Linked DNA regions of Homo sapiens: all the other regions are linked to region 1. Evidence: fine-mapped expression QTL. Tissue or cell type: whole blood. Region 1 holds a variant in brackets; each other region holds the start of a gene. All regions are shown on one strand. Distances are from middle to middle.

Evidence for each region. PIP is the estimated chance that this variant, and not a neighbour inherited with it, causes the effect.
Region 2: it holds the start of TPST1, and the variant in region 1 is fine-mapped to the expression of TPST1 in whole blood (TOPMed, PIP above 0.99).
Region 3: CRCP starts here. The variant in region 1 is fine-mapped to the expression of CRCP in whole blood (INTERVAL, PIP above 0.99).

What each region holds. Positions count from the first base shown.
Region 1 is chr7:66,082,850-66,090,951 of GRCh38, forward strand. ASL (argininosuccinate lyase) reads left to right here. Exons shown (of 17, transcript NM_000048.4): 5 at 31-87; 6 at 228-325; 7 at 3,736-3,813; 8 at 3,895-3,972; 9 at 4,485-4,537; 10 at 4,880-4,942; 11 at 5,958-6,072; 12 at 6,242-6,326; 13 at 6,427-6,486; 14 at 6,763-6,846. Among named protein-coding and RNA genes, the nearest start is that of ASL, 11 kb to the left of the region's middle. RefSeq lists an enhancer at 3,455-4,082. The variant A/G (reference allele first, on the strand shown) is at 4,661.
Region 2 is chr7:66,200,856-66,208,957 of GRCh38, forward strand. TPST1 (tyrosylprotein sulfotransferase 1) reads left to right here and starts at 4,479. Exons shown (of 6, transcript NM_003596.4): 1 at 4,479-4,667. RefSeq lists silencers at 4,102-4,371, 4,522-4,881.
Region 3 is chr7:66,109,886-66,117,987 of GRCh38, forward strand. It overlaps CRCP (CGRP receptor component), which reads left to right and starts at 4,962. Exons shown (of 6, transcript NM_014478.5): 1 at 4,962-5,085. The coding sequence starts at 5,078. RefSeq lists silencers at 3,838-4,028, 5,457-5,751 and enhancers at 4,675-4,804, 5,342-5,870.

The DNA of each region.
Region 1 (8,102 bases):
CCGTGACCCTGGGTCTCCCTTCACCTCCAGGAGCTCATTGGTGCAACGGCAGGGAAGCTGCACACGGGACGGAGCCGGAATGACCAGGTGCTTTAGCCCCTCCACCCCCTGCTCCGTGTTGTCCCAACCTTGAGGAGCCCAGGGGGCAGTTAGAGTTCTGCAGCGGTCCTGGCTCCTCAGGGAAGCAACACATCGGCCTCCCTGAGCACCATCTCCTCCTTGCACAGGTGGTCACAGACCTCAGGCTGTGGATGCGGCAGACCTGCTCCACGCTCTCGGGCCTCCTCTGGGAGCTCATTAGGACCATGGTGGATCGGGCAGAGGCGTGAGTCCTACAGGGACACCCAGGGGGCAGACAGAGGTGTGATGGAAGCCTGAACAGGAGACCTAGGGGGCAGGGGTGAACAGCGTGGGGGTGCCAGGCCCTGGGGGACAGGGGCATCCCAGAACTCCAGGATCGAGGCAGAGCAGCCAGGAGTGGGCCATTTCCTGCAGGCCCCAATACTCCCATGCCAGTCTAGCTCAGCAGGCAGAGAAGACTAACCCTTCGTGGGGCTGGGTGCGGTGGCTCACGCCTGTAATCTCAGCACTTTGGGAGGCCGAGGTGGGTGGATCACCTGAGGTCAGGAGTTCGAGACCAGCCTGGCCAACATGGGAAAACTCTGTCTCTACTAAAAATACAAAAATTAGGCAATGTGGTGGTGTGCGCCTGTAATCCCAGCTACTCGGGAGCCTGAGGCAGAAGAACTGCTTGAACCCGGGAGGAGGAGGTTGCAATGAGCCGAGATCGCGCCATTGCACTCCAGCCTGGGCTACAGAGCGAGACTCCTGTCTCAAAAAAAAAGAAAAAAAAAAAAGAAAACTCACCATTTGCAGATTTGAAGGCAGGAAGCTAAGCCAAGCACAGCTAGCTTGGCTGTGCCTGGAGCAGCCAGAGTCACTCCCCACACTGCCTGTCCCCCAGATCCCCCATCCTAAGCTTCGCCTCCCCATCCAGCCCATCTGGCAAAAGACAGAGCCAAAGGCTGCCTCCTGCTGGCCTCATTTCAGGCTTTGGCTTCTGGGACCTGGTGTCTTTGGGACTGGATTTGTTCCTTGCAGACCTGGACGAAGAGCTGCTGAGAAGTCTCCATGTGTTGTCAGAGACCCCTCCTCTTCCTCAACTCCCTGTGACCCCTGTTGTGCAGACTTGGGGGAAAACAAGGGCACAAGAATTGTCACCCAGCAGGTGGTGTGGGGCTGCTAGGAGGAACAGGGAGTGTCTGCTACTGAGTTCAGGGTTTCTTTAATTTTTTGTTGTTGTTGTTTGTTGTTGTTTTTTTTTTTTTGAGACAGGGTTTTGCTCTGTCACCTAGTCTGGAGTGTAGTGGCGCTATCTGAGCTAACTGCAAACTCTGCCTCCTGGGTTCAAGTGATTCTAGTGCCTCAGCCTCCCAAGTAGCTGAGATTACAGGTGTGCACCACCATGTCCAGCTAATTTTTGTATTTTTTTCAGTAGAGATGGGTTTTGCCATGTTGACCAGGCTGGTCTTGAACTCCTGAGCTCAGGTGATCTGCCCGCGTCGGCCTGCCAAAGTGCTAGGATTACACCCATAAGCCACTGCGCTCAGCTTAATTTTTAAATTTTTAACTTTTTAAATTGTCTTTAGAGATGAGATCCTGCTCTGTCACCTAGGCTGGAGTGCAATGGCTTGGTAATAGCTCACTGCAGTCTCAAACTCCTGGACTCAAATGATCCTCCCACCTCAGCTTTCTGAGTAGCTAGGACCACAGGTGTGCACCACCTGTGAGACAGAGTCTTGCTCTGTTGCCCAGGCTGGAGTGCAGTGGCGTGATCTCCACTCACTGCAACCTCTGCCTCCCAGGTTCACGCCATTCTCCTGCCTCAGCCTCCCGAGTAGCTGGGAGTACAGGTGCCCACCACCACGCCCGGCTAATTTTTTGTATTTTTAGTAGAGACGGGGTTTCACCATGTTAGCCAGGATGGTCTCAATCTCCCGACCTCATGATCCACCCACCTCGGACTCTCAAAGTGCTGGGATTACAGGTGTGAGCCACCGTGCCCAGCCGCGAATTCTTTAAATTTTTTGTAGAAACAGGGTCTCACTATGTGGCTCAGGCTGGTCTCAAACTCCCGGCCTTAAGTGATCCTTCCCTCTTGGCCTCCCAAAGTGCTGGGATTAAAGACTTGAGCCACCGTGCCTGGCCTTGAGTACAGAATTTCTTCATGGGGTGATGAAAATGTTCTAAAATTGGTTGTGGTGATGGTTGTACAGTAAAGTGTAAACTTTAAATGAGTAAATTGTGAATGATATCTCAGTAAAGCTGGTTTATTTAAAACAACAGGCCAGGTGCTGTGGCTCACGCCTGTAATCCCAGCACTTTGGAAGGCTGAGGCGGGTGAATCACCTGAGGTCAAGAGTTCGAGACCAGCCTGGCCAACATGGTGAAACCCCATCTCTACTAAAAATACACAAAATTAGCTGGGTGTGATGGTGGGCACCTGTAGTCCCAGCTACTTGGGAGGCAGGAGAATCTCTTGGACCTGGGAGGTGGAGGTTGTAGTGAGCCGAGATCACGCCACTGCATTCCAGCCTGGGCAACAAGAGCGAAACTCTTTCTCAAAAACAACAACAACAAAAAAACAGGCCAGGTATGGTGGCTCATATCTGTAATCCCAGCCCTTTGGGAGGCCAAGGCAGGAGGACTGCCTGAAACCAGGAGTTTCAGACCACTCTGGGCAACATAGCAAGACCCCATCTTTTTTTTTTTTTTTGAGACGGAGTCTCGCTCTGTCGCCCAGGCTGAAGTGCAATGGTGCAATCTCAACTCACTGCAAGCTCTGCCTCCTGGGTTCATGCCATTCTCCTGCCTCAGCCCTCCTGAGTAGCTGGAACTACAGGCGCCCACCACTACGCCCGGCTAATTTTTTGTATTTTTAGTATAGATGGGGTTTCACCGTGTTAGCCAGGATGGTCTCGATCTCCTGACCTTGTGATCTGCCCGCCTCGGCCTCCCAAAGTGCTGGGATTACAGGCGTGAGTTACCGCGCCTGGCCACAAGACCCCATCTTTACAAAAAACTAAAAATTAGCTGGGCATGGTGGCATGTCCCTTTAGTCCCAGCTACTCAGGAGGCTGAGACAGGAGGATCGCTTGAGCCCAGGAGATCGAGGCAGCAGTGAGCTATGATCATGCCACTGCACTCCAGTCTGGGCAACAGAACGAGACCTTGTCTCTAAAAATAAAAACAAAACAAAACAACAAGAAAACAGGACCATCACTCACAGCACCTCTGCCTCTGCCCTGCCTACTTGAATGAGGTGCAGGGCATCTCACCTGCTCAGAGCAGCCCTTGAATGAGCCCCAGCTATTTCTAGGGTCCTCAAACGAAACCTCCCACGGCCAAGTCATACCCAACATGGGCCTCCTCCCCTATTCTGGCCCCTGCTCGGAGATGCTGAGTGACAGAGGCTGGACTTGGGGTGTTTCTGGCAAAGCCTCACTGCAGGAAGCCCCACAGCTCAGGCCCAGTCCTTGGTTCACACGGTCCCACTTCCAGCTTCTTTTGCCCTTAAGACTGATTTGTCCCTGGGAGATCACCAGATCCCTCATTCAGGTGGAGTGCTGCAGCGTGACACTTTTTCCAGGGGTGACCCAGGCCTGCAGGGTTCCAGTGTCACAGGCAGGCCTTGCATGAGCCTCCACCCGAGCTTCTGCTCCTCCTCTCCCACAGGGAACGTGATGTTCTCTTCCCGGGGTACACCCATTTGCAGAGGGCCCAGCCCATCCGCTGGAGCCACTGGATTCTGAGGTGAGCCAGGTGAGGTGCAGGGGCTGTGCTAGAGGGGAGGACCCCGGCTGCCCTGACCCTCCTGCCCCTGGCTTCCCACAGCCACGCCGTGGCACTGACCCGAGACTCTGAGCGGCTGCTGGAGGTGCGGAAGCGGATCAATGTCCTGCCCCTGGGGAGGTGGGTGAGGCTCCAGTGCCCCGAGGGCCTGGTGGGGGTGGCTGCTGCATAGCCTTAGGGATTGACAGAGCTGGGAAGTGCAGAGTGGGACAGAAAACCGCCTTATCTGCTCAGCGGGGGACTCTGCATGGAGCCCCAGCTCTCGCTAAGGTGACGACCAAGCCATTGAATGTGTCTGAGCAGGGCCAGAGCCCTCCAGCAAGGCTCCTGGCAAGCCCAGCCTGCTGCCCTCAGCCTGACATGTGGGAACATGTGTCAGGAGACAAGTGTCCTGCACCCAGGGTGACTTAGTGCTTGGGGACAAGTGTTTTGTGGACACTTGGGGACAAGTATTCTGTACCCAAGGAGACTGGGCCAGGGAAGAGGCTAAGCGCCAGGTGGTTGCCCTGGCAACCAGGACTTGGTTCTCTGTGTGTGCGTTCGTGTGTGTGTGTGTGTGTGTGTGTGTGTGTGTGTGTGTGTCAGGGCTGCCTGCCAGGAGCCCTGGTCACCATGAATCCCTGTCCCTGCAGTGGGGCCATTGCAGGCAATCCCCTGGGTGTGGACCGAGAGCTGCTCCGAGCAGGTGAGACGTCCTGCCCCTCCTCCCCAGGGAGAATCACCCTCAGCACCCGCCAAGACCTGCAGACACACCTGAAACCAGAGGGCAGGGGCCTGTGGCTCCTGGTGAAACCTTCATTCATTGCCT[A/G]TGGGCACTGAGGTCATCAAGTTCAGGGGTCACTCATGGCAGGGATGCCTGGTACTGAGAGACTCAGGGCTCCTGCCTCCCTCCTGGGACTGTGCAAAAGATCCCTCCCCCCAGCTGTTGCCCCACCCTGATCAGGGGAGGGGGCTGGGCAACCTAGTTGGGGGAGAGGGGGCCACTCCCTGTCCTCCAGCTTAGCCCTGCTTCCTCCCACCCCCCCAGAACTCAACTTTGGGGCCATCACTCTCAACAGCATGGATGCCACTAGTGAGCGGGACTTTGTGGGTGAGTCCTGGGGAGCCAGTCCCCTGCCCTGTGCCTCACTTTAGTCCTTCAGCCCAGCTTCTCTCCAGTTTCCTCCCACACCTCCACGGACAGGCTGGTTGTGGTGATATTGTACACTGAAGTATAAACCTTAAATGGGTAAAGTGGGTGGGGCATGGTGGTTCACCATGCCCAGCACTGGCCAACATGGTGAAACCCCATCTCTACTAAGAATACAAAATTTAGCTGGGTGTGTGGTGGCAGGTGCCTGTAATCCCAGCTACTCAGGAGTTCTGAGGCCAGAGAATCACTTGAACCCAGGAGGCGGAGGCTGCAGTGAGCCAAGATCACGCCAGTGCACTCCAGCCTGGGCAACAAGAGCGAAACTCCATCTCAAAAAATAAAATAAAATAAAATAAAAATAAATAGGCCAGGCATGGTGGCTCACGCCCGTAATCCTAGCACTTTGGGAGTCCGAGGCAGGTGGATCACATGAGGTCAGGAGTTTAAGACCAGCCTGGCCAACATGGTGAAACCCCATCTCTACTAAAAGCACAAAAATTAGCTGGGCATGGTGGTGCATGCCTGTAATCCCAGCTACTCGGGAGGCTAAGGAAGGAGATTCGCTGGAACCTGGGAGGTAGAGGTTGCAGTGAGCCAAGATTGTGCCACTGTACTCCAGCCTGTGCATTGGGAGCGAGACTCCATCTCAATAAATAAATAAATAAATAAATGGATAAATTGTATGTGAGTGATAACTCAGTAAAGCTGGTTTATTTAAAACAACAACAATAACAAAAAACACGCTAGGTGCAATGGCTTACGTTTGTAATCCTAGCACTTTGGGAGGCCAAAGCAGAAGGATTGCTTGAGCCCACAAGTTTCAGAACAGCTTGGGCGACATAGCACGACCCCATCTTTGCGAAAAATGAAAATTTAGCCGGGTCCCCCCACCGCCTAACCTCCTCCTGCCCCCTGTATGGTCAGGCTGGGTGGGGATGGGAGAGGCCTGGTGACTGGGAACCTTTTCTCCCAGCCGAGTTCCTGTTCTGGGCTTCGCTGTGCATGACCCATCTCAGCAGGATGGCCGAGGACCTCATCCTCTACTGCACCAAGGAATTCAGCTTCGTGCAGCTCTCAGATGCCTACAGGTAAGCCCTGAACTGCCACCTCCATCTGCCGCTGCCGGCCTCTGTATCCCCCGCCGCCCGCGGACGTGGCTGCCTTCCTCCCCGTCCCACCCCTCCGCCAGACCTGGCCATTGCGGCGCTGGACCAGCCAAGGGTCCAGCCCCTTCAGCGCCAGCACCTCTGTCCCCAGCACGGGAAGCAGCCTGATGCCCCAGAAGAAAAACCCCGACAGTTTGGAGCTGATCCGGAGCAAGGCTGGGCGTGTGTTTGGGCGGGTGAGCAAGGCAGGGGGAGGGGCGGGGCCTCTGGGCTGATGGTGGGTGGCCAGGGGGGCAGGATCCCGGGTCCAGCCCCTGTGCCTCCCTCTTCCCGCAGTGTGCCGGGCTCCTGATGACCCTCAAGGGACTTCCCAGCACCTACAACAAAGACTTACAGGTGCGAGGCCGGGGGAGGCCTGGCTAGTACGTGCCAGTTCTCAGGGCTCTGGCACACTCAGGCAGGGCCCCACCCCGGGATTGCCATACATCCTCCCATCCTGTGCACACAGCTCCATCCGTGGCTGCCCTTGAACTCTCTGCCCTTCCTTTGTTGGGGTATTGAGTGTTCTTCCCATGGAAGGCAGTGGGGATGCCTCAGTGGGGGGGTGGGGCTGTGGGGACCCTGGGTGCCAGGGGGCTGCTAGGCCCTCACCTCCTGCCATGTGCCTCCCAGGAGGACAAGGAAGCTGTGTTTGAAGTGTCAGACACTATGAGTGCCGTGCTCCAGGTGGCCACTGGCGTCATCTCTACGCTGCAGGCAAGACATCACCCCCCTGCTTCTCCTCCCCTAGGTCCCAGGCACTGGGGTGGGCATGCGGGGAGGGTGGCCTTGGGAGGAGGTGAGGTGGGGCTGGAGGACCTGGGGCAGGGAAGGAGAGGTGTGCTCGCTCCTGCTCCTGGGGAACAGGGAAAGGACAGAAACTGCTGCCATGCAGTGGAAGTAGATGAGACTCAGGGGGCCTGGGGCCTGTCAAATGGCCTGACCAGAACTCTTTAAAAAAAGAAAATCTAAACAAAAGGCCAGGTGCAGTGGCTCATGCCTGGAATCTCACACTTTGGGAGGCCGAGGCAGATGGAGCACTTGAGGTCAGGGGTTTGAGACCAGCCTGGCCAACATGGCGTAACCACGTCTCTACTAAAAATACAAAAATTAGCCAGGCGTGATGGCCCACACCTGTAATCCCAGCTACTCAGGAGGCGGAGGCAGAAGAATAGCTTGAACCCAGGAGATGGAAGTTGTAGTGAGCCAAGATCATGCCGCTGCACTCCAGCCTGGACCACAGAGTAAAACTCCATCTACAAATATATAAATTAAATTAAATTAAATTAAATATCTTTAAAAAACATTTTTTAGAGACAGGGTCACTCTCTGTCGCCCAGGCTGGAGTGCAGTGGTGCGGTCGTAGCTCACTGCAGCCTCAAACTCTTGGGCTCAAGTGATCTTCCCACCTCAGTCTCCAGAGTAGCTGGGACTACAAACATGCGCCACCACGCCTGGCTAATTTTTTTATTTTTTGTAGAGACAGGGTCTCCCTATGTTTCCCAGGCTGGTCTCAAATTCCTGGCCCCAAGCCATCCTCCCACCTTGGTCTCCCAAGGTGCTGGGATTATAGGCATGAGCCACTTTGCCTGGCTGATTTCTTTTAAAATCAATTATTATGGGAAATTTATGTATATAACAGCTAGAGAATGCATAATGAACCCTATGTACCGACACCCAGCTTCAATGATAATCAACTCACGGACATCCTGGCTCCAGCTGTCTTTACCCACAGCTCTCTCCCACTCCCTTACCCCCTTATTTTGAAGCAAATTCCCATCATCACATCATTTCATTCCTAAATAGTTCAGGATATGTCTTGAAATCAGTGTTTCTTGGCTGGGTGCAGAGCCTCATGCCTGTAATCCCATCAATTTGCGAGACTAAGGTGGGCAGATCACTCGAGGTCAGGAGTTCGAGACCAGCCTGGCCAACATGGCGAAACCCCGTCTTTACTAAAAATATAAAAATTA
Region 2 (8,102 bases), 120 kb after region 1:
TGCTGGGATTACAGGTGTGCCCCCACCACACCTGGCTAATTTTTGTGTTTTTAGTAGAGATTGGGTTTTACCATGTTGACCAGGCTGGTCTCGAACTACTGATCTCAAGTGATCTGCCCTCCTCAGACTCCCAAAGTGCTGGCATTACAGGTGTGAGCCACCATACCTGGCTGATGCTCTCTGGTGAGGTGATCTAATTCTGGGCTGATCACCTGGAAAGGTAAAGCCCGGGAGAGAAAATAGAAACGCAGAAAGAGTGTTCAGAATCTATGAGGCTCATTAAATTACACAGAGGAATAGAAATGTGGTGTGAATCAGATGTGCATACAGTCTTGGACAGTTTTTCAGGAACAAGTTTTCCTTTAAAAAAAAGTTATGTATTCATTCCTTGTAAATAGGTAATCCAGGCCAGGCGTGATGGCTCATGCCTATAATCCCACCACTTTGGGAGGCCAGCGTTGGAGGACTGCTTGAGCCCAGGAGTTCAAGACCAGTTTGGGCAACATAGCAAGATCCCATCTCTACCAAAAAAAAAAAAAAAAAAAAAGTAAAAGGCTGGGCACGGTGGCTTACACCTGAAATCCCAGCACTTTGGGAGGCCAAGGTGGGCAGATCACATGAGGCCAGGAGTTCGAGACCAGCCTGGCCAACATGGTGAAACCCTGTCTCTACTAAAAATACAAAAATTAGCTGGGCGTGGTGGTGGGCACCTGTAATCCCAGCTACTCGAGAGGCTGATGCAGGAGAATTGCTTGAACCTGGGAGGCAGAGGTTGCAGTCAGCCGATATCATGCCACTGCACACCAGCCTGGGCAACAGAGCGAGACTCTGTCTAAAAAAAAAAAAATTAGCAGGGAGTGGGTGGCGTGCACCCGTAGTCTTAGCTACTCAGGAGGCTGAGGTGGGAGGATCACTTGAGCCCAGGCGTTTGAGGCTGCAGTGAGCTATGACTATGCCACTGTACTCCAGCCTGGGTGACAGAATGGGACCCTGCCTATTAAAATAAGAAAAAAAAAAAAAAAAGGTAATCCAAGCATATAGCACATAATTTTTAAAGGTGCCCAAGAGTACATAGCAAAGAATTAGTCTCTTTCCTATTCCTGTGCCCAAGTCCTTCAGTTTCCCTCCCAGAGACAACACTGTTACCAATTTAATGTGTGCATCTTTCTTGATATTTCCTCTGAAAATAACAAGTGTGTGTGTATGTGTATTTTAAATATATACAAATGGGTATATTATACACACTGTTTTGAACTTTGTTCTTTTCACTTGAGTATATTTTGGAGTTTTTTTTCCTTCTAGCACATATACTATATGTGTTGGGGCAGATTTAGAAAGCAGGAAAAGTTCATCTTGTTCTCAATAACCCTGAGCTTTGCTTCAGATCAAGCTGTTTCTTACTTCTGCCTCAGAGGCTGGACCCTGTCAGAGGCTGGACCCTGCTTCTTACTTCTGCCTCAGAGTGTAGTCCCCGGATCACCTGAAGCTGTCCTGCTCAGTGAGACATCCTGCCGTATGACAGGTTTCACTGAAAGGATCGTGTCCTTTCTTCTTACTGAATTCCCCACATCTAGAATTCGTTCTCACAGTTTAATACGTGCTAGGAGGACCAGTGTCAGCTCCCTATGTGGCTACTCAATTCTTTTTCTAGGTCTTATAGGTGGGGGAAGGATTTTCTGGGCAGTGTGGGAGGTTATCTCAGATCTCCATCTCTACTTTGTGGAAAGAGCCTGGCAGGGGCTGTGCACCGGTGGTGGCTTCCGTATTACTGAGGCCATGGTGAGTCCTTTTCCTGAAGAGGTCTGAAATGTAGAAAGCAGAATGTAACTTGGCCCTTGCTTAACATTAAAAGACTGGTTAGAGGATCGCTTGAGGTCAGAAGTTCGAGACTAGCTTGGGCAACATAGTGAGACCCTGTCTCTAAAAACAAAACAAAAGGTGGGCGCGGTGGCTCACACCTGTAATCCCGTCACTTTGGAAGGTGGAGCCGGGCAGATCATCTGAGGTCAGGAGTTTGAGACCAGCCCGGCCAACATGGCAAAACCCTGTCTCTAATAAAACTACAAAAAAATTAGCTGGGCATGGTGGCAGGCGCCTGTAATCCCAGCTACTGGGGAGGCTGAGGCTGAAGAATCACTTGAACTCGGGAGGCGGAGGTTGTAGTGAGCCAAGGTCATACATACCATTGCACTCCAGCCTGGGCAACAAGAGCGAAACTCCATCTCAAAACAAAAACAAACAAACAACAAAATTGCTGTCTACCATCTTATAGTCAGTTTTCTTATCTATCTCTGTGTGTGTGTGTGTATACACCCACACACATATATACACACACACACATATACACACAAACACACACACACACACACATATATATAATTATTATTTTTTTTTTTGGGTGAGAGGCAAGGTCTCAGTCTGTCACCCAGGCTGGAGTGCAGTGGTGCCATCATGGCTCACTGCAGCCTAGAACTCCTGGGCTCACGGGACCCTCCTGCCTGGGTTTCCCAAACTGCTGGGATTACAGGCGTGAGCCACCACACCCAGTCAGCTGATTATCTGTAGAAGGAGATATCATATGTACCTTAGACAGTTGCTGTAAAGATCAAATGAGGTCCACACAAAAACTTCTTTTTTTTTTTTTTTTTGAGACGGAGTCTCACTCTGTTGCCCAGGCTGGAGTGCAGTGGCACAATCTTGGCTCACTGCAACCTCCACCTCCCGGGTTCACGCCATTCTCCTGCCTCTGCCTCCCGAGTAGCTGGGACTACAGGCGCCAGCCACCATGCCTGGCTAAATTTTTGTATTTTTAGTAGAGACGGGGTTTCACCGTGTTAACCAGGATGGTCTCGATCTCCTGACCTTGTGATCCGCCCACCTCGGCCTCTCAAACTGCTGGGATTACAGGCGTGAGCCACTGCACCCGGCCACACACAAAAACTTCTACACAAATGTTCATAGCAGCATCATGTATAATAGCCAAAAAAGTAGAAACAGATGTCCATCAATGGATTAATGGATAAATAAAAGATGATGTCCAGCCAGGCACGGTGGCCCATGCCTGTAATCCCAGCACTTTGGGAGGCCAAGGCAGGCAGATCACTTGAGGCCAGGAGTTCAAGATCAGCCTGGGCAACTTGATGAAACCCCGTCTCTACTAAAAATATAAAAATTAGCCAGGCATGGTGGCACATGCATGTAATTCTAGCTACTTTGGAGGCGGAGGCATGAGAATCACTTGAGCCCAGGAGGTGGAGGTTGCAGTGAGCCAAGATCACATAACTCCACTCCAGCCTGGGAGACAGAGTGAGACTCTTCAAAAAAAAAAAAGGTGATGTCTGTATAATGGACTATTATTCGGCCGTAACAAGGAATGAAGTGCCGATACATGCTACAACATGGATGAACTTTGAAAATATTATACTGTGTGCAAAGGAAGGTAGTTACCTTCCCGGGTTCAAGCAATTCTCCTGCCACAGCCTCCCCAGTAGCTGGGACGACAGGCGTCCGCCACCATGCCCGGCTAATTTTTGTATTTTTAGCAGGGACGGGGTTTCACTATGTTGGCCAGGCTGGTCTCGAACTCCTGACCTCAGGTGATTCACCAGCTTTGGCTTCCCAAAGTGCTGTGATTAGAGGCATGAGCCACCCCACCTGGCCTAGCAGAGAGCAATTTTGAATACAGCTGTTAGATTCTGCACTCATGCCTTCTCTAATCCATGTCACTGGAGTAGAAATAATTGCTTTGACAGAACCTGGTGTAGATGTGTCTGTAGGAAGAAACTGTAAAATGAATGGATCATTTTGTGAAATATCTGCCCTTTCCCCACCTTTCTTTTGCTTCTTTGCCTTTTTCTCCCTAGTTTTCATTTCTTTCTTTTAGGGCGTCAGCCCCCCACCTCTGTGGTTGGGAGGGACTATTGCACGTCTACACTCTCGTGGGGATGAAATAGTGTTTGAGTTCGTTATTTGCATTTGCGCGTTATCTCCCCGAGGAGATGACAGCTTCTCTGCCAGCAGCGGGCAAAGGTGGGCTCTGAAGCAGAGGAGAGGAATTATCAGGAAAAGCTCATTTTCTTCTCCTGTCCTAGGGTTTCACTGATGAAGGCCTCTGGGACACCCACGTTGGGGGTGGGGGCGGTGAGGACCGCCACCTGCCCGCGGCTCCCCTGCAGCCAGGCCACGCGCGCTGTTGCTAGGGCAACCACCCGGCCAGGCCTGCGGCTGCCGGGAAGCCCCCTCGGGAGCGCGCACGGGAAGGGCTGTGGGGGCGCTGGCCGGCTGCGACGTCAGACCCCCGCCCCTCGGCGCCTGCCGGACCCAGCTCCATTCCCAGCCGCGCCTCCTTCGGTGGGCAGCCGGCCGGAACTCACGAATCAGAGCAGCCGACACATCGTCCGCTCAGCCAATCGTAGCAGATGTGTGATCCCGCCACCTCCCCGGACCCTGGCGGTTGTCGCTGAGTTGGCGACCGCGGGAGACGCTGCTGAGGCGGCTTCGGTTGCGGGTCGGAACGGCGCTGCTCTGCGGGGCCGGTCCAGGCTGGCAGCTGCCGGCGCTTGGCGGTGAGGGCGGGCTCCCGAGTGGCCCCCCACCGAAGGCGGTGGGACCAGCGGCTGAGGCCAGGATGCCGTCCAGGCGGCGCGGCGGCTCCTCACTCATCCCAGGTAAGGGGGACGCGGCGCTCGCTGCGGCTCCGCTCCCCTCTCGTCTCCTCACACCCGGCCCTGTGCCCCGTCCTGGCATCCCTTGGCCCCTTGTCGCCTTCTGCTCGGTGCCTCCCGGTTGTCCAACCCCGCCCCCGAGCGCGGAGCCCCGGGTCTGGCCCGTCCGGCCCCTGCTCCCACGCCCCTTCCCCCATCGCCGGCATTTCCCGGGCTCGGCTTCGCCCCGGCCGCCGGGGCCTCTCCCCTCTGCCCTTTCTCTCCCTTCTCGCAGCCCTGGGACCACGTCCTAGCCCCGCAGTCCCCTGGGATGAGACCCTCGTCTCGCCGGGATCGGACATTTGCCCCCACGTCTACCCCGGCTGCGCTTCTTGAGCTCATCGCCCCATCATCCTACCCGTTGTACGTAGTCCTGTCTGCATGGCAGTCGCCCGCCCCGCTCCAGGTGTCCCTGGGTCTTGCCCTTTTGCTCCTAAGCACCTTCCTTTCCCAACTCGCCTCTTCTCCCCTCACTTTGACCACCCACCATCGCAATCTCCTCTTCCTTCTCTTACTCTTAAACCTCCAGACACTTTCCCACTCTCTGCAATGCCGGATTCATCGCTTTTTTTTTTTTTTTTTTTGAGAGATGGAGTCTCTATGTTGCCCAGGCTGGCTTCGAACTCCTGACCTCAAGCTATCCTTCTGCCTCGGCCTCCAAAGTGCTGGGATTACAGGCGTGAGCCACTGCGCCTGGCTCAGATCCATAGTGTAATATCTTCATTCGTCCTTACATGAGCTGCACCCCATAACATGTAAAGTCCCTTGCCCAGAGTCTAGCACACAGTAGGCCTGGCACATGGTGGGTGGTCACGCATGTTAGCCTCTTCCTCCTTCCAGGCGTTTTGTACTTTCCAGATGATGGTAGCAAGAAGTCCAGTGTCCACAGGGATTTGACTCTGCCTGAAGAATGGTATGGGAGATGGCAGGAGAAATTGGTGAACTCCAGTAAAGCGATTAAATGGTCAATTACTGCATTCATTAAGAAGAAACAATTCTGCTATCCGTGCCATGTATTGTTTTATGTTAATTGCCTTTGTAAAGGATTCTTAGGCTGCTAGTCAGCAGGCTTTGCGGTGTAATTACTCCCCATCCCCTCTCCATCCCCATCTGCAGTGTTTGGGTAACTTTCTTTTTAGGAAAGAAAGAGCCCCTACCTCCCAGCTAAAGTGGCATAGTATATAAGCAATGTGGTACGTGTTTATCTATTAGCTGGATAGTCCAGGGAGCTGCAATGAATTTTCATCTTTTAAGATCCAGGAGGAATCAGGATTTGGATTTCCTGGAATCAGCTGCTGTACAGACCAAATATGCTTAAGAATGAAACTTCTGACAAGTCCTCTAAGAGTGAGAGAGGAATTATCCACCCCTCTCCCTCCCCCTCTCCAAACACTCGCTCTTGGAGGAAATAGCGAGTCGATTTTTAAAAAAGAGTAAAATACGTTTGACTTTTTAAAATGATAAAAGCATTGTCATTGGCCCTGTACTATTCTTGCCACCTTTGCTCTGATGGTCTCAAGCCTGGACGAATCAGTCAGCTTTTTCTGCTCCTGGGCTCCCAAGGCAGACTGGCAAAAATCATATAACTAAACTGCTGGGTGCTGTTTCTGCACTTCTGGATCCTGGAGATCCTTTGACTTAACCTCTAGATTCCTCTTATGTCCTAAAATCTAAATGGCTGTTTATGGATCTTTACCATTTTTCTCTGACTCTTTGTCCTACTCTTGCCTTCTCTTCATTGCTTATTTTGCCACTTAACTTCACAGAATAAATTGGTGGGCATCAGCCCTGAACTCTTAAGGAGAGGTCATTTTTGTCTGTGCCTGTCTGTACCTGATTTCTAATATCCTTTCCTCTGATCTCAGAAGAAGAGGGGTCTTACTTTCGAAAGCTAACGTCTTTGATCTCTTCCCATATTATTATTTTTTCTGTTGGATGGTATACATCCTCAGGTTTCCACCATTCAGACCAAAACAAAGCTTTTCTTGATGCTTCCCTTTTCTTTTTTTATTCTTCTCAGATTAACGTGGCATTCCTTAGGGTTTCATTTTTGTTCTTTTCTCTAATTTCCTTGTGTGATTACACTTCCTTTCATGGCTTCAAATAGCACCTATATATTTATGGTTTTCAAAGACGTCTATTTAGTCCCCGTTTCTCTTGAACCTCAGGTTCTAATTTTCATCTGCCTACTGCATAGCTGTATGTGGATGCTTGATTACTTCAAATGTGGTTACCTTTTCCTTCCCTTTCTCTCCACCCATAGCCCCCTTTAAGCACATATACAAACATTACTATTTTAAGATCTTTACTCTAGAAACCTTAAAATCATCTTCTTTTCTCCTCACATTAAGTCTAGCATAGATCCTATTGTTGTTGCTACCTCAGATCTTTTTTTTTCCTCTCTTCATAACATCTTTTTTTTTTCTCTCTCTTCATTGCCAGAAGACTGGTTCAGACCTTGGTTATGCTTTTTCTGAACCTCTGGGTCCTGTAGTCTACTTAATCCTCCACGTTGCTGCTGGAATTGGTTCCATTTCTGAACTATCAATCTGATCATGCTGCTTGTTTTCTTTAAAAATTCTCATCAGCTCCCAAACCCTTAGCATGTTGAGCCAGTCCTTCCAAGCCTTCTGTAGCATGGGCGCATCCCCTTCCTGGGCCCTTTGTGATCCAGAGAAAAAAGCAGTAAAGAAACAGACCATTCACTACCGTAAAATCAAGACTGTGACAGAGATGACTACAGGGTGCTCTGGGAGCATCACCCTGGTGAGAGTGAGGACAAGTTTCTGTCTACAGGCACCTAGGACTTTTTCTGACTACCCCTCCTCCTTAGTTTGGGTTAGGTGACTTTTCTTTGTGTTTCCACAGCACCCTGTACATACTTCCATCTCCATTTTTACCACTTATACCATTTTTAGTTTTTTTTTTGTGACACAGTCTTGGTCTGTTGCCCAGGCTGGAGTGCAGTGGTAACATCTTAGTTCGCTGCAACCTCTGCCTCCAGGGTTTGAGTGATTCTCGTACCTCAGCCTTCCGAGTAGCTGGGATTACAGGCGCCTGCCACCACACCCAGCTAATTTTTGTATTTTTAGTAGAGACAGGGTTTCATCATGTTGGACAGGCTGGTCTCAAACTCCTGACCTCAAGCAGTCTGCCTGCCTCAGCCTCCCAAAGTGCTGGGATTACAGGCGTGAGCCACTGTGCCCAGCCCATTTTTACTATTTATAATGTTCTGTTTTCTTATTTTTCTCACTGACTTGAGAGTGAACCCTTTAAGAGAAAGAGTTGTGTCATATCTCATTGTATCTCCAGTTTCTAGCAAATTGCCAAGTACATAGTGCTCAGTAAACTAAGTTTTCAGAAGAGCTGAATCTAGACAAGGAAAGGTAAGGGGAGATG
Region 3 (8,102 bases), 27 kb after region 1:
AATACAGAAGTCCTAAATCAGTCTCACTGGGTTAAAATCAAGGTGTTGGTAGGGCTGCAGTCCTTTTTTTTTGAGTCAGAGTCTCGCTCTGTTGCCCAGCCTGGAGTGCACGATCTTGGCTCACTGCAACCTACCCCTCCTGGGTTCAAGCAATTCTCCTACCTCAGCCTCCCAAGTTGCTGGGATTACAGGCGCCTGCCACCACACCCAGCTAATTTTTTAAATTTTTAGTAGAGACAGTGTTTCACCATGTTGGCTAGGCTGATCTCAAACTCCTGACCTCAAGTAATCCGCCTGCCTTGGGCTCCCAAAGTGATGGGATTACCGGTGTGAGCCGTGGCACCCAGCTGGGCTGCAGTCCTTTCTGGAAGCTTCACAGGAGAATCTGTTTTCTTGCCTTTTCCAGCTTCTACAGTTACCTACATTCCTTGGCTCATGGCCCCTTCCTCCATCTTCAAAGGCAGGAATATTGCATCTCTCAGATCATTCTTCCCTTCCCTAGCCACACCTCCCTTGGGCTCTGACATCAGGTGAGAATGATTTTATGCTTTTAATGATCCATGTGATTATGTTGATACCACATAGAAAATCCAGGATAATCTTTTCTTCTTAAGGTCCATACCCTTAATTGTCATGGTGATCAGCGACTATCCAGGACCAGAGGTGCAGACAGTAAAAAGAATGTTTACTCGGCTCACTGCAACCTCCGCTTCCCGGGCTCAAGTGGTTCTCCTACCTCAGTCTCCTGAGTAGCTGGGATTACAGGCGCCTGCCACCATGCCCGGCTAATTTTTGTATTTTCAGTAGAGATGAGGTTTCACCATGTTGGCCAGGCTGGTCTTGAACTCTTGGACTCAAGTGATCCACCCGCCTTGGCCTCCCGAAATGATGGGATGACAGGCATGAGCCACCGCACCTGGCCTACCGGGTATCATTCGAACACCCAGCTAACTCCCTACTCTAAGTCACACCTGAGCCATTTTATCATGGGGGCTGTCAGAGGCACTGCTGTTTTTCACTGAAGCCCATACCCAATCCCTCGGCCTCGTGTGCTTTTCCCTCACCCACTTCAAAGGCCCGTGGCTTTGGGACGCCTCTCCACCTCATTAGTCATTCCCTCCCCTGCCCATCGCGTCGAAACACAATGCATTGTGGTTATTTATGTCCAGAGCTGGTTCCTCAACTAGGCTGTCAGCTAGCCAGTGCAGAGGGTGTGTGTTAGTCACATTTGTATCATCAGCCCCCGATGGGCCATGGCTACATACTTGTTGAGTGAATAACACAAGGGGCATCTTTAGCATTTCTTTGTGGGGCCCAATCTCCTCAGCGAAGGTACAGGGAATTCTCCACACTAACTAGGCCAGCTGGGTCTGGGTGGCATTTTATGACTTTTTTGTTGTCGTTATTTTGCGATGGAGTCTTGCTCTGTCACCCAGGCTGGAGTGCAGTGGCGTGATCTGCAACCTCCGCCTCCCAGATTCAGACGATGCTCCTGCCTCAGCCTCCTGAGTAGCTACGATTACAGGCACGAGCCATCAAGCTGGTTAATTTCTATTTTTTTGGTAAAGATGAGGTTTCACCATGTTGCCCATGCTGGTCTCAAACTGGGCTCAAGCGATCCACCTGCCTTCATCTTCCAAAGTGCTGGGATTACAGGTGTGGACCACCACACTCAGCAGAGTAAAAAATGTTTAACAGCTTTATTAATATAGGATTAATATGCTGTACAATATGCCATTTAAAGTATACAACTCAGTGTCTTCAGTATATTCACAGGGTTGTGCAACCACCACCACCATCTATAATAATTTTAGACAATTTCTGTTTCCCAAAGAGAAACTCCCTACTTATTAGCAATCACTTCCCATCCTTGCCCCCAACCTAGCCTTCTGTCTGTATCCATAGATTGGCCTCTTCTTGGACATTCTATATAAAGTGAATCATACCATATGTATTCTTTTTTTTTTTTTTCTAGAAGGAGTCTCATTCTGTCACCCAGGCTGGAGTGCAGTGGCGTGATCTCGGCTCACTGCAACCTCCGCCTCCTGGGTTCAAGCAATTTTCCTGCCTCAGTCTCCCGAGTAGCTGGGATTACAGGTGCCCCCCACCACACCCAGCTACTTTTTGTATTTTTAGTAGAGACGGGGTTTCACCATGTTGGCTAGGCTGGTCTCGAACTACTGACCTCATGATCTGCCTGCCTCAGTCTCCTAAAGTGCTGGGATTACAGGCGTGAGCCACCACGCCTGGCGATTTTTGTATTTTCGGTAGAGACAGGGTTTCCCCATGTTAGCCAGGCTGGTCTTGAACTCCTGATCTCAGATGATCCACCCACCTCAGCCACCCAAAGTGCTGGGATTACAGGCGTGAGCCACCTGGCCAGGCAATATATATTATTTTGTGTCTGGCTTCTTTCACTTATTAATAGCATCATGTTTTGGGAGGTTATCCATCTTGCAGCATTTATCTATCAGTCTGTCTATATATATTTTTTGCAACAAGGTCTCTCACTCTGTAGGCTGGAGTGCAGTGGTGTGATCATAGTTCCCTGCAGCCTCTACCTTCTGGCTCAAGCGATTCTCCTACCTCAGCCTCCCCAGTAGCTGGGACTAGAGGTGCTCACCACCACACCTGGCTAACTTTTCGTAGTTAGGGGGTCTAGCTATGTTGCCCAGGCTGCTCTGGAACTCCTTGTCTCAAGAAATCCTCCTGCCTCTGCTCCCCAAAGTGCTGAGATCAAGCCTGGCCTCCTTTTTATTTTTATATTTTTGAGACAGAGTCTTGCCCTGTCTTCCAGGCTGGAGTGCAGTGGCACGATCTTGGCTCACTGCAAGCTCTGCCTTCTGGGTTCACGCCATTCTCCTGCCTCAGCCTCCCTAGTAGCTGGGACTACAGGCGCCCACCACCACGCCCGGCTAATTTTTTTTGTATTTTTAGTAGAGACGGGGTTTCACCCTGTTAGCCAGGATGGTCTCGATCTCCTGACATCGTGATCTGCCCGCCTCGGCCTCCCAAAGTGCTGGGATTACAGGCGTGAGCCACCGTGCCCGGCCAGCCTCCTTTTTAAGTAGTTTTCCATTGCACAAATGTAGCACATTTTATTCATCCACTCATCAGTCTCTAGTTAATGCATCTGTTGTATATGTTCAGATTGGCTGGGGTTCAATACCCACTGGACAACTTCCTAGATGAGTGACTTTTGGTAAATCATAATCTCTCCAAGTCTGCCTCAGTTTCTTCAATTATAAAATGTCAATAATAATGCAATGTACCTCATAGAGAGTCATGGTTGTATTGCCACAGTAATTAATAAAGTGCCAGGAACTTTATAAGGATTATTTAACACCCTTATTATTTACAAAGTAGGCAACAGAGGCTATTGTGGTGGTTCACACCTGTAATCCCAGCACTTTGGGAGTTGGAGGTGGGAGGATCACTTGAGGCGAGGAGTTCAAGACCAGCCTGGGCAACACAGTGAGACCCCCATCTCTACAAAAAAATTAAAAAATTTTGTAGCTGACTCTTTGGACAATAAAGAATTTTATTTTAGAAAATTAGCCAGGTGGCTGGGTGCAGTGGCTCACGCCTGTAATCCCAACACTTTGGGAGGCTGATGAGGGTGGATCACAAGGTCAGGAGTTCAAGACCAGCTTGGCCAAGATGGTGAAACCCCGTCTCTACTAAAAAAATACAAAAATTAGCTGGGCATTATGGCGGGCACCTGTAATCCTAGCTACTGGGGAGGCTGAGGCAGGGAACTGCTTGAATCCAGGAGGCAGAGGTTGCAATGAGCCGAGATCACGACACTGCACTCCAGCCTGGGCAACAGAGTGAGACTGATCTCAAAAAAAAAAAAAAAGAAAAAGAAAAAGAAAAAAAGAAAATTAGCCAGGTGTAGCGGAGCGCACCTGTGGTCCCAGCTACTCTGGCAGGCTGGGGTGGGAGGATTGCTTGAGCCCAGGAGTTCAAGGCTGCAGTGAGCTCTGATTGCACCACTGCATTCCAGCCTGGGCGACAGAGCAAGACCCTGTCTCTTAAAAAATAAATAAATAAACTGCAATGTTTCTGGCAGCCCAGATGCCACCAGCCTCACTACTCTCTGAGAGGTGGGATTTTAACATGCAAAGGCCCACTAACCCGATCACGTCTCACAACTTCAGCTGATTAATACTTTGTTAAAACCTAGACCACGAAAACAGACAGAGCCCGGCGAGGTGGCTCACGCCTGTAATCCCAACACTTTGGGAGGCCGAAGCGGGTGGATCACGAGGTCAGGAGTTCAAGACTAGCCTGGCCAAGATGATGAAACCCCGTCTCTACTAAAAAATACACAAATTAGCTAGGCGTTATGGCGGGCGCCTGTAATCCCAGCTACTCGGGAGGCTGAGGCAGGGAATTGCTTGAACCTGGGAGGCAGAGATTGCAGTGAGCCGAGATCGTGCCACTGCACTCCAGCCTGGGTGACAGAGCGAGACTCTGTCTCAAAAAAGAAAAAAAGAGGCTGGGCACGGTGCCTCACGCCTGTAATCCCAGGACTTTGGGAGGCCGAGGCGGGCGGATCACGAGGTCAGGAGATTGAAACCATCCTGGCTAACACGGTGAAACCCCGTCTCTACTAAAAACACAAAAAATTAGCCGGGCTTGGTGGCAAGCGCCTGTAGTCCCAGCTACTTGGGAGGCTGAGGCAGAAGGAGAATCGCTTGAACCCAGGAGGCGGAGGTTGCAGTAAGCCGAGATCCAGCCTGGGCGACAGAGCGAGACTCCGTCTCAAAAAAAAAAAAAGGTTAAAGAAAAAAAGAAAAGAAAACACAAGATAATCCTGTCCGCAAACGCTTAGCAGTCTTAAATCGGCCTGGTGGAAGGATGCAGGGACACTCCCCCACCCTGCCCCCCGAAAAAGGGGAACGCGCAGCGCGAGGTTCCGGGTCCGCCAAGCTCCCGGCATGCAGCGCGGCGATCCCGGCGAGCACCTTGGCGCGCGGAGCTGGCACCTTGGCGCTGTTGGTGGCGGCGGAGACAGCTGTGAAGTGTGAGGTTCTTTGTCTGCTGGCAGCTAGGGGCGACGAGGCGGGACGTCATGGAAGTGTAAGTCTTCTCGGGCGCGTCCCTTTTCGCCCGAGGAGCCCAACGGTTTGACCGCTGAGAGCTGAGAGCCGAGAGCCGTGGGGACTGGGCGACCCTCGTACGGGAGTGAGGGCAGCGGGCCGGCCCTGTCCGGGAGGGCCGCGGGGTGGTGACGGGGACGAACGGGACTCTCGCTTTGCCCTTCCGAACCTTCGCTTCCCCTCCACGCCGTGTCTGGTGCGGGGCCGAGCACTTCCGTGTCCGGCTGCCTTTCAATGTGCCCCCTCCTTCTCTCATTCGTTTACCAGCGTTTCTGGGTCACAGTGCGGGGGTGGAGCCCAGTCTGGTATCCGACCCCGGACTTAGAAGGCTATAAAGGCCTGAGTCTGTCCGCCCTGAAAGTAGGTGGAGGAGAGACGAATCAGGGCCGGGTAGAGCTCTGCTTGCAGCTGTAGGCCCCTGGAGAGCCCTCGGAAGAGCTGCCCTCGGAATTTGATGGGAGCAGTAAACACTGTGAGGGAAGGGGCTGGTTTTGGGGTGGAGAAGGGAAGGACGTGAACCAGGACTGGGACCAGAGAAACAGCAGGGGGTGTGTGGGTGTGTGTGCAAGGCGAGGGTAAAAGATTTTCTGACAGTTTAACTCCACGTGGTCTTTTCCATGCTTGCTCGTTGCGCCTGGTGCAAATGGAAGATTTTGCATCTACTCTGAATGTGGGCTTTATACGGTTGATATTAATTTGTAGGTATTACTATCTTGTGTTCTCTTTGAACTGATTATTTGATACAGTTTCCTTTATGTTCTTTTGCCTCATGTTTAATGGTTATATGTACTATGGCATTTCACATTTTTACATTTTTAATTAATTGTTTTTTCTTAAGAAACAGGGTCTTGCTCTGTCCCCCAGGCGGGGTGTAATCATGGTTCACTGCAGCCTCACTTTCTGGACTCAAGCAATCCTGCTTCAGCCTCTTCAGTAGCTGGGACTACAGGCCCACGCCATCACTCACCGCTAATTTTTTAAAAAAAGTTTTGTAGATGCAGGGTCTCACTACAGCCCAGGCTGGTCTCCAGCTCCTGAGCTCAAGTGATCCTCCTGCTTTGTACTCCCAAAGTCCTGGGATTGCAGGCGTGAGCCACTTCACCTGGCCTCTTCCGATTTTTTTTTAAACACAATATGTCTGTGTAACTGAAATGAAAGGCTCATGAAACAATAATGTGTGGCGTACACTCTCATATTGTCTATTTTTTATTAATATGAATGGGGCCAACCGTGGTGGCTCACACCAGCAATCCCAGCACTTTGGGAAGCTTAGGCAGAAGGATCACTTGAACCTGGGAGGTGGAGACCAGCCTGGGCAACATAGGGAGACCCTGTCTCTGCAAAAAATTAAGAAGTTAGCTGGGTGTGGTGGTTCATGCCTGTAGTCTCAGCTACTTACGAGGCTGAGATGGGAGGATCACTTGATCCCAGGAGGCTGCAATGAGCTGAGATAGAGCCACTACACTCCTGCCAGAGTGACAGTGTAAGGCTCTGTCTTAAAAAAAAAAAAAAAAAAAAATTGAACCACTGAATTAATTTTGCAACCCACTGATGGGATTTCATCTGCAACCTAAAAAACTATTCATATAATTTACTCTAGTCCAAGCCATCATTACTAATTTTTCCCTCTTTACTAGAGCATTTCCTGTGAGCATACAACCCTGCTTTAGAGAATTCATCTTAGAAAATCCTCCGTCCCCACATACATGTCCCCCTCTTACTCCATTTCTGCTTCCCATCCCAACAAAACTTCTTGAAAGTGCTGATTAGCCCCTCATTCTCTCAGCCATTCTGTTGGGCTTTCATCCTCACTGGTCTACGGGAATGACTGTTAAGATTACCTGAACCAGCGGGGCGTGGTGGCTCATGCCTATAATCGCAGCACTTTAGGAGGCCGAAGTGGGCGAATCCCCTGAGGTCAGGAGTTTGAGACCAGCCTGGCCAACATGGCATAACCTCCTCTCTACTAAAAATACAAAAATTAACTGGGTGTAGTGGTGGGCGCCTGTAATCCCAGTAACTCAGGAGGCTGAGGCAGGAGAATCGCTTGAACTCGGGAGGCAGGGGTTGCAGTGAACCAAATTGTGCCACTGCACTCCAGCCTAGGTGACAGGGCAAGACTGTCTCAAAAAAAAAAAAAAAAAAAACCTGATCCCTCCATCTTGTCAAATTCAGAGGTTGATTTTCTGGCCTCAACTTTCTTGATCTCTCAGCAGTGGTTAATACAGAAACTCTAGAAACTTTCCTTTTCTTGTGATGTATGTTCCTTTGCGTATTTCCTCCTACATCAAGGACTACTTCAGTGTCCTTCCCTGGGTCCCGTTCCTCTCTTGCTTGATGTCTAAGTGTTGAGTGGTATCTTAGGGCTCAGTCCTGGGACCCTTTCTCTCCACACTCTGTCATTTCACCCATCTATGTGCTGATGGTTCTCAAAGGTATGTTTCTAACCTTCTTCTCATCATCTATCCAATTGCATAGACCAAAAATCTAGCCCTCTCTCTTCACTCCCTAAATCCAGTCCATCAGTGGTCCTGTTGTTTCCACCCTAGAATATATTTTGAATGCAGTTACTTTTCACCATCTCCAATGTTAGCTTTGTAGTCCATCACCTCTGGGCTGGATTAAGCAATAGCCTTTGAGTGTTCACTCTTCCCCAGCCTCCATTCTGTTCTCCACATGGCAACTGGAGTGATCTTAAGTAATGATTGGAACATGTCGCTCCTGGGTAAAACCCTTCATTGACTTTCCATTGTACTTAGAGAAAATCTCCATCTCTTACCAGGACCTGCAAGACCCTGTAAAACCTCACCTACTCCCCAGCCTTACCACTTGCCACTCTCCCAACCTCCCAGACACACACTTTCCACTGACAGGTATTTCCTTCTCCTCTAACCTTCTAAGCACTTCCTGAGGACCATTGCGTTGTGGTACCCTCTGTCTGGTATACTTTCCTCCTCGCCCTCGTCCTGTTCTCTTCTTTTTATTGTTCTTTTTTTA